2 separate regions of the Homo sapiens genome follow, and region 1 is linked to region 2. Evidence: fine-mapped expression QTL. A gene starts in region 2. The other region holds a variant in brackets. All regions are shown on one strand. Distances are between the middles of the regions.

Region 1 (4,402 bases), 190 kb before region 2:
TAAGGAAATGGAAGCTTGTAGAGACCAGATAATTTGCCTCAGGTCACAGAGAGAGAAGAGAAGGTGAATCTAGCCTGATCCCATTTCTTTTCTCACTGAGGCTACAATTCATTTCCTCTAACCTCTCCCAGTCCTACCGAAGTAAAGCTGTCTCTCAAACAGCATGCCGGTTCACATCTCTGCACCTCAGAGTACTTCTGCTTGCAATCCTCCTCTCTGATATTTAACTGTCAAAGTCCTACCTAGTAATCTGTCAAAATCCTACCCAGTGATCACCACATCTGTGAAGACTCTTCTAAGCCTCCCGACTTGATGCCCAGTACATATTTCCCATCTTGCACGTATCGTGCTGCACTGTAACTGTGTGTTTACAAGTCCCTTTCTCTCTCAAGGCTGTGGGCTCCATCGCTGTGTCTGGTCCAATAAAGACTTTTGAAGTGAACTGGTGTGCATAGTCATTAGCGGGTTCTCTGTAAATTTCATGGATTGTAATAATGCCTGGAAAGTATAAGCCAGTTTCTAAAGAAAGTAGATGTTAGCAATGGACAAAAAAAGTGGCTTGGAAAATGATAATCTTTTAACACATTATTTACATATACAACTTTTTATTAAAAATGGGTTTCACAATGGACTCTCCCTCCTCCCTGTCATCCCTCACCAGTAACATTAGGCTTAATTATTTAAATTAATTGAGTGGGAGTCAGTATTTAATTTAAAGTCTAATTCTTATTAGGATTTTAATAAATAACATTTAATAACTACCAATTACACTTCAGCATATAAGAACGCTTAATTCTTAACATTATTAATTTTTAAATAGAATCTAATGGAAACAATTTCTCCACATGGAAGTCTACACCTTGACCAAGTTTGAATTCTAAGTCTTAGCCTTGGTTCTCTTTGTATTGCTCATGCCTGCTGCTTTCTCTCTCTGTTTTCCTATTCTTGAGTGGGTTTTATGTGAAAGAAGATGGACTTCCTTCAGGCCTACAATAAAGTGACACTGACTTAAGAAAAACAAAATATCATTTATTTTTATACACAAGAAGATATAAAATTTCTACGAATGAGCAGATTTGGGTTTGAACATTAAACTCCATCATTCACATGCTGCATTGTTCAGTAGCATGTGTTTAATTTTATCATAAATTATCAAGTACTTTAAAAAACATGTAAAATCCTGTTTTCTGACTTTTGTAATTCAGATAACATTCTGGAATGGGACACACACACACACAGACACACACTTATATCTCCCTAAAACCACTGCATTAGTTAGGATCTTCAGGGAACAGTCACCCAGATAACCTAAAGTAATATAAGTTTATTGTAAGATCATATGTCTCAAACCGAGGTAGCCATATCTCAAGGGATTACATGGCATTAGCCAAAAATTATGAGAAGTAACTGAAACAAAAAATATGCCATGTCTCTCTAAATTATCCATTTTAAATGAATACAACATTTTTAATAAAAAATAATACCAATCTCTCAAGGAGGAAAATGTAGATGGAATTTTGAAGATGAAAACAACATGAGATGGCAAAGAAATGCTAAGCTCGTGATAAGCCTCTTGGGCTATGCCCCAGACTGCTAGTAGTACTAGCACCTTCTTTTCTTTTCTTTCATTTAGCAGAAAAGTCAGAAAAGTGTTGTATAAGATTCACATAGAAATAAGGACAAGAACAAGAACTGCACAAGAGTTGACACTGGAGACTGGAATGCTACTCAAAGAACAGAATTCCCCCAAACATCCAAGATGACCCCTAGCAACTGAATTATCTTGACATCACCTCAGCAGTAGAGTGCTGTTAGGTAACTCTGGCAA[G/C]GGTATACATATAATCTGCTTCAACAGTCCTTATTCCCACCAACCAACTCAACTATTCCTGCCCTTTATTTATCTTTTCGTTACAGCTTCCTTATACTTTTGCCCACTTCTAATTTCAATATACCCAATGGCTTTTCACAACATCTACAGTTGACTTTCTCTCTGGGTATCTTCTGCTCCTGCTCCATCTTCCAAATGCTCAAACTAATTTGTGCATTAAATGTAAAAAAAAAAAAAATCACCCGAAGAGGGCATATCATTCCTTCAATTAATCACCAGCATCCCTGTTTTGACACAGATTTTGTGCCATGCTGTCCATATCGCACCGGCCAGTCTACATGTTATTTGACTTTGAGTTCACTTCCCACTTTTGGCAAGCCTGGCTGTTGTTCTGTAGCAGGGTAACACAGGCTAAGAATTGAGATATGTCAACTTAAGGATTCACCGTGGTCAAGTTTCCTCTGCAGAAGACCATGGAAGTGTGTCATGGGCATTCTGACTCTTGCCTTCTTCAAAATAGCCCCACTAACAGATGTCAGCAACTGATTCCTTTGGAAGGATAAACAAATGGTATAACCAGATAAGGCTTTGAAGGCTTTGCAATGGACCCCAAATTATAACTAGTTACACAGAAATTTAAAGAATGGAATGAATCTCTGTTTGGATAGATGTCCTATATATTGCAGGTATCCTTTCTTATTTATTTTCCTTTCCTTTTTTTTAAGTTTTGTATTTCAGCTACAATGGTTTCAGTTAAACATACTTCTTAGTTCCTATTCCACCGTTACTACTGGTTCATCACCTCTTTAGTCCTTTAGTGCTACTGTAACAAAATATCAGTGGCTAGGTAATTTATAAAGACAGAATTTTATTTCTCTCAGTTCTGGAGGCTGGGAGTCCAGGATACAGATGCCAGCAGGTTTGGTGTCTGGTAAGAACCTGGACTCTGTTTCCAAGACGGTGCCTGTTGCTTTATCCTCTGGAGGGGGGTAATGCAGTGTCCTCACGTGGTGGAAGGGATGGGAGGGCAAAAGGGTGCTTCCTCCAGCCTTGAGGTCTAAAGGGCCTAATGCTAATACCATTTTTTAGGATGAAGCCCTGGTGACTTAACTACCTCTTAAAGGCTACACCTGTCAATACTGTTGCATTGAGGGGGCGAAAACATTTAAGCCCTAGCACCTCCGTTGATTGGTTGATTGATTGGAATCCTTTTCACAATCTCTGATAGAGATTTTAACATACTTCTGGAACTTACTATCTCATAAGGGCAACAGCCTATTTCATATATTGAACTTGCTAATTCTTAGGTAATTCTTTCATACATTAAACCAAAAATAACTTTCCCTTAACTTTGCCCTAATGTCCTCAGTTCTTTCTTGCAGAACCATATAGAAAATGTCTATTTCTTCCCCCAACACAATAGCCTTTCAACCCTATAAGGTTGGCTATTAAAGAAAGTTTTCACTTTTCTATGTGAAACATAGTCTGTTCTTTCATTAATTCTTCATATGATGTGGGTTTAAGGCACTTTACTACCTAGTCACTTTCCCTTGGACACACTCTAGTTTGATAATGTCTTTTTAAAAAATATGTATATATTTAAATATTTAAAAATAGATATGCTCTGCCATTGCAGAACATGATGGGTACAACCTTGCCCCTCCCTTCTCTAGTTTTGGTTTTTATTAATGCATCCTAAAATTTGTATCAGTCTTTTTTGGAAATAATATCACATTTTTGACTCTCATTGAACTTTAAATCTTTTTCAAGTGAACTGCTGTCAATTCAAAGCTTTCTACCTTGTATTTAAGTAGTTGATTCTTTGAACTTAGATGCAGAATTTAACATTTAACCCTATTAAATTGTATATTGTTAATTTCATTCCATCCTTCTCCTTTTCCAAGGTCTTTTTCAAATTTGATTCTTTAATATTGTCTATCAGCTTTACCTCCAACTTTCAGCGATCTACAAGCTTGATAGGCAAAGTTTTTATTGAAATTCACCCAATTCACTGATTAAAACGTTTACAATTTCAGAATAGAAGACAAAGAATCACTTTTAGTAGTGGTTCTAAAATTTTAGTGTGCAAAATAATAACCCAGGACATTTGCTAAATGTGCAGATCCCCAAGTCCCATTTCCAGAAATTTTGATTTAATAAGTCTGGGATGTGATTCCAGGAATGTGCATTTTTAACTAGCACCACATTTGATTCTGATGCTTTTTGTCCTAGGCCACGCCTTTAGACAGATCTTCGAAATTTTCCTTTTGGTCTAAATTGACATTAACATGTTCATTAATTTTTAATAGGGTGCTTTTTTTTAGTACAGTGTTGGACACATGATTAATACTGAATGAATGACTGAACAAAAGAAAGAATGAAGGGTGGAAGCAGTGCTCAGCTAATAATTCAGCTATATTTCTTCATTTTAGTCACAAAGCCAGTACGATCAGTTTTTTCAAATGCTTTGTTGTAATTGAATTATATTATGTCTTTGATGTTCCACACCGAGGGAAAAAAAAATTTATTTTGCATGACCTTTTCTTAATGAACATATGTTGTCTCTTAGTGATC
Region 2 (4,402 bases):
GGAGATTCAGAGGTGAAAGCAGGGATTGCCTGCATCTTTTAAGTCCCAGTTTGATTTTGATTTCATTTCATAATAGATCTTATTAATGATAAAAGTTGGCGGCCGGGCGCGGTGGCTCACACCTGTAATCCCAGCACTTTGGGAGGCCGAGGCGGGCGGATCACGAGGTTAGGAGATTGAGACCATCCTGGCTAAACCAGGAACCCCAGCAAAACCCTATCTCTACTAAAAATACAAAAAAATTAGCCAGGCGTGGTGGCGGGCGCCTTTGGCACAGCACACAAATCCCCTGATCATATAATCATAGGGCCCTGTCTAGCTTTATAGCCTTTGGACATTACTGACCACATCAACTTTAACCTCCTGCCACACATGCACACTCAGGGGAGAGGGCAAGGTACATTTGGGGAACTCCCCCTCCTCTTCCCCATCTCTTCCTTGACTTCCTTCTTCTCTAGTCAGAGTCATCCATAGTGAGCCTTCTGCTGCCCACTGGAAACTGGGTTGAAAGTCCCAGCTACTCGGGAGGCTGAGGCAGGAGAATGGCGTGAACCTGGGAGACAGAGCTTGCAGTTAGCCGAGATCGTGCCACTGCACTCCAGCCTGGGCGACAGAAAGAGACTCTGTCTCAAAAAAAAAAAAAAAAAAAAAAACGAAAAACAAAAACAAACAAAAAAGAAAACGTTGGCGTGGGTGACTTTGGGGATTCTAGGAAGAGCCCTGGCGCTTTCAACCCAGTTTCCAGTGGGCAGCAGAAGGCTCACTATGGATGACTCTGACTAGAGAAGAAGGAAGTCAAGGAAGAGATGGGGAAGAGGAGGGGGAGTTCCCCAAATGTACTTTGCCCTCTCCCCTGAGTGTGCATGTGTGGCAGGAGGTTAACGTTGATGTGGTGAGTAATGCCGAAAGGCTATAAAGCTAGACAGGGCCCTATGATTATATGATCAGGGGATTTGTGTGCTGTGCCAAGGCTTGGATGGCATCCTTTGTTCCAGACAGAAGGGTCCTGTTTATTGTCCTCCTAAGGTAATTTTTGTTCACTTTGTAACTTTTGCTCCCATGCACTCAGCAAACAGATATTGACCAGCTACTATGTGCTAGTAAGTAAGTGGTAGTTGTTTGGGATACAATAGTGAGTAAAGCATGACTCTTAGCATCTGTTGTATGTGCATGCATGCCATGCATGTGACACTGAGGGAGAGAGAGATTAAATGATATGACAGCATAGAGGCTGGGCACTGCCCAACTTTCCATGTGGAATTCAGAGAGGTCTTTATTTCTCTGAAGTTGAGTTTAAGCTTGGGTGTTCTAGCGACCAGAACTGTAATGGGAATTGTAGGTGCAGATGAACTTTGTGTAGGGTTATGGTTCTTTCTCACAGAACTATTGGCACCCACTGCAACCAGCTACACAATTTTCTTTACAACTCTGCAGCAAGCTAGACAGGTCACAGGCAGTCCAACCTCAGGAGGTTGCCTGTATCATGTTGATGGTGAAGCTGACACCATAGCATGGAAACCAGAGTCCACTGCTCCCACAGCTCAATGCTTAGCTGTTTCAATATGTTGTCTGAAACTGCATCTTCTAATTCCTGGACTTTTCAGATCTGTACTGACTCAGATCTGGGTGGGGCTTAGTTTGAAGGAGGGAGTCCTTGGTGATGATGTGATTTCCTTGGTCTGTCATAGGTAGCAAATCAAACGTACCTTGGACTTTACTCTCTGAGAAACTCATAGCTGAATTCAATGTTTATTCTTATGGACTACTTAGCATTTGACTAGACGGTATGAATTTCTAAGTAAGGTAAGGATTTCTTTCTAAGTTGTTTATACCTAGAACTTAAAAGTGGGCATGAATAAATCAAATATGGGTGGTTTTTAGTTGACACTTTATTTTCCCGTTAGGAAAAAATTAGTGACTGATCTTTTAAATTGATTTAGTGCATATACTATGTATTGTGCATATGCACCAAACAAATACTTAGTAAAAGGTTGTCTTGAAGGAACATGCTGATATATTTCAAATAAAAGAACTTAGCAAAAATGAGGAAAATACCTAACATTCTGGTAAGACAGTGAAAGAGGGATGAGCAATGTTTGTTTTGAAAATTATCTGCGAACTTTAAAAAAATCTCTAAGAGTGTATTCTTACTTGTAATTGTTCATCTAGTTACACTACAGAGTTTTATTAGCTGCTCCAAGATGCACTGCGTTCCATTCTGTGGTGGAAACAAAAGGACCGTAGTAGTGGTTATCTAGCAGAAGAATCGTGATCTTTGAATTCTAATACAAGAAACTTAGAAGTCTCCTAGATATTTCCACTGTCTCAGGGAAGAATCATTAAGTTTATGTCATTTTTTAATAACTAAAACAAGATTCAAAAAGTTAAGATTCAATTCTCATTGGGTTTCTATTGTTTGGGACTTTGGATAATAGAAAAAAATATGAACAGGTAATTTAGGTTTTTTTGTGTTACTGGTACCTGACAAAACAAACTTGAGCTTCCCATTTCCTAGAAACTTGGAGGAAATAATTTCTGTCCAGAATGGCAAATTGGTGTCATATCCCATTATAAGCATATTTTAATCAAAAGATGCAATAAAGTGTAGTGGTCAAGATCATAGTCTCTAGAGTCAAGTAATCCTTGGTGCATTTACCTGCTTCATCATTAACCAGTTGTATATTTTTCTCAGAGCCAGTTTCCTAATCTGTAAAATGGGGGTAGACTAGTATTGCTGTGAAGATTAAATGAAATTTATTAAAGTGCTTAGCAAAGTGCCTGGTATGTAGAAAGTGTTTAATAAATATTATTATTTCAGAATATAGATGTAAAAGACAAATGATTTCCTATATAATCATATTGAGTAGCCTGAAAGTTTGGTGGCTCTTAAATAAATCCATGAATGAAGGCTCTGCCTACTTTTGGCGTGTGGCCCACCAGCATGTTCTATCAGTTGGCCTGAGCTGGGAAAGAAACCAATTCCTGTGTTGAGTTTTCCTCCAGGTGCTTAAAATAGACCATAGCTTAATATTTTGATCATTAACCAGTGATTCTGGGTGGCTTCTCCTTGCTCTGGTCAGTGACCGGTGTAGGTCACGTAGTACAGCATTAAACAAGGTGTTTTTCCTCCTGAGGTTGTCATGTCAACTCTAAATTCCCAGAGACTTGCCTAGGAGTGGAGAGTTTGTTCTGAGTTACATAACCAGCATTCTCTTTGAGGCTTTGAATGTCTGTCTAACTGACTTCTGACTGCAGGCATGCAAACTTTTCCCCTGCCTAGTAGGAATGAATACCCCTTTTCCAAGTATCTGCATAGCAGCGACCCAGGGGCTATCCAAGAGCCAGTTGCTTCCTGACTTAATTTCTGGGAAGACCAATTGCCTATTCAAGAGAAATTCCTTCCTCCTTATTCTTCTGTCAGATGAGACTAGCTATTAGGTATTCCCTATCTAGGACTCTGACCTGACTCTCCTAGAAAAGAAAATGAGGATCCAAGTCCATTCCGTTTAACTGGGGCTATAAACATATGCCACCAGAAAAATCCTGCTATTCTGGCTTATTATAACTTTAGGTTCTCCTTTCTAACACAATACTATCTTTATAACATGTACACACCTTTCCTTGGTATTCAGTTGTAGTGTTTATATGTTCAAAATCCTTCTAATTTAGCCCCAACTAAAGTTTCCAGTATATATTTGCAGGCCCCTTTTACTGCACCATCTTCAGTAAAATGCATATTTCTCTTTCTTCAGCATAGGCTTCACCCTTAGAAGCTTGCTTTTCTCTGGATATTCATTTCCAGCAGGTCTCAGAGATAATGTACTGTATTGCATCTTTTTCTGTTGGAGACTAGAATGCAGTTAGCAGGTGCAGCTTGTTATAATAACTGCAGATTCAGATTTTTTCTCTCTGTAAATACTGTTAAATGTCCCCTCAGAGGCTCATTTTAAAATTGAGTAACGAATGGGGGCTTGTTTTTCCTTAGTCCTCGATCTTGGAATCTTAGAGTCTGTCATTGCACATTGCTGCTTACCATTTAGAGTTCAAACCACTAATTCCCAAGTGATAAGAGATTAAGATACAAACCTGAGATAGGCAAATGTACACTTGCAGCTTCCTTGCTTTAATACTTCTGTTTCAGGTGGGATGTCTTCTCCATGGCTATCCAGGTCTGTCCTAGACACCACCTTCGAGAAATGAGATCCTTTCTATCTAATTTAACCTAGATTAGAGACATCACCAAGAACACCTTCTGAAGGTGAAAACCTTTTACCTTTTCTTTTTGTCCCATACTCTATATTCCTTAACTGCAATCACTACAATATCCTGTCAATTACACAAAATTAATGTTACTATGACCAACTTTGATAATATTTCTATTTCCAAATTGACAAATTATATT

Evidence for each region. PIP is the estimated chance that this variant, and not a neighbour inherited with it, causes the effect. A credible set is the group of variants that fine-mapping cannot tell apart.
Region 1: its variant is the best candidate, but not a certain one, in a credible set for the expression of HHLA2 in whole blood (TOPMed, PIP 0.73).

The regions. Positions count from the first base shown.
Region 1 is chr3:108,108,809-108,113,210 of GRCh38, forward strand. LOC105374031 (a long non-coding RNA gene) reads left to right here. Exons shown (of 8, transcript XR_007095997.1): 3 at 1,634-1,815; 4 at 2,127-2,514. Among named protein-coding and RNA genes, the nearest start is that of LINC01215, 14 kb to the right of the region's middle. The variant G/C (reference allele first, on the strand shown) is at 1,829.
Region 2 is chr3:108,294,797-108,299,198 of GRCh38, forward strand. It overlaps HHLA2 (HHLA2 member of B7 family), which reads left to right and starts at 1,752. Exons shown (of 10, transcript NM_001282556.2): 1 at 1,752-1,803.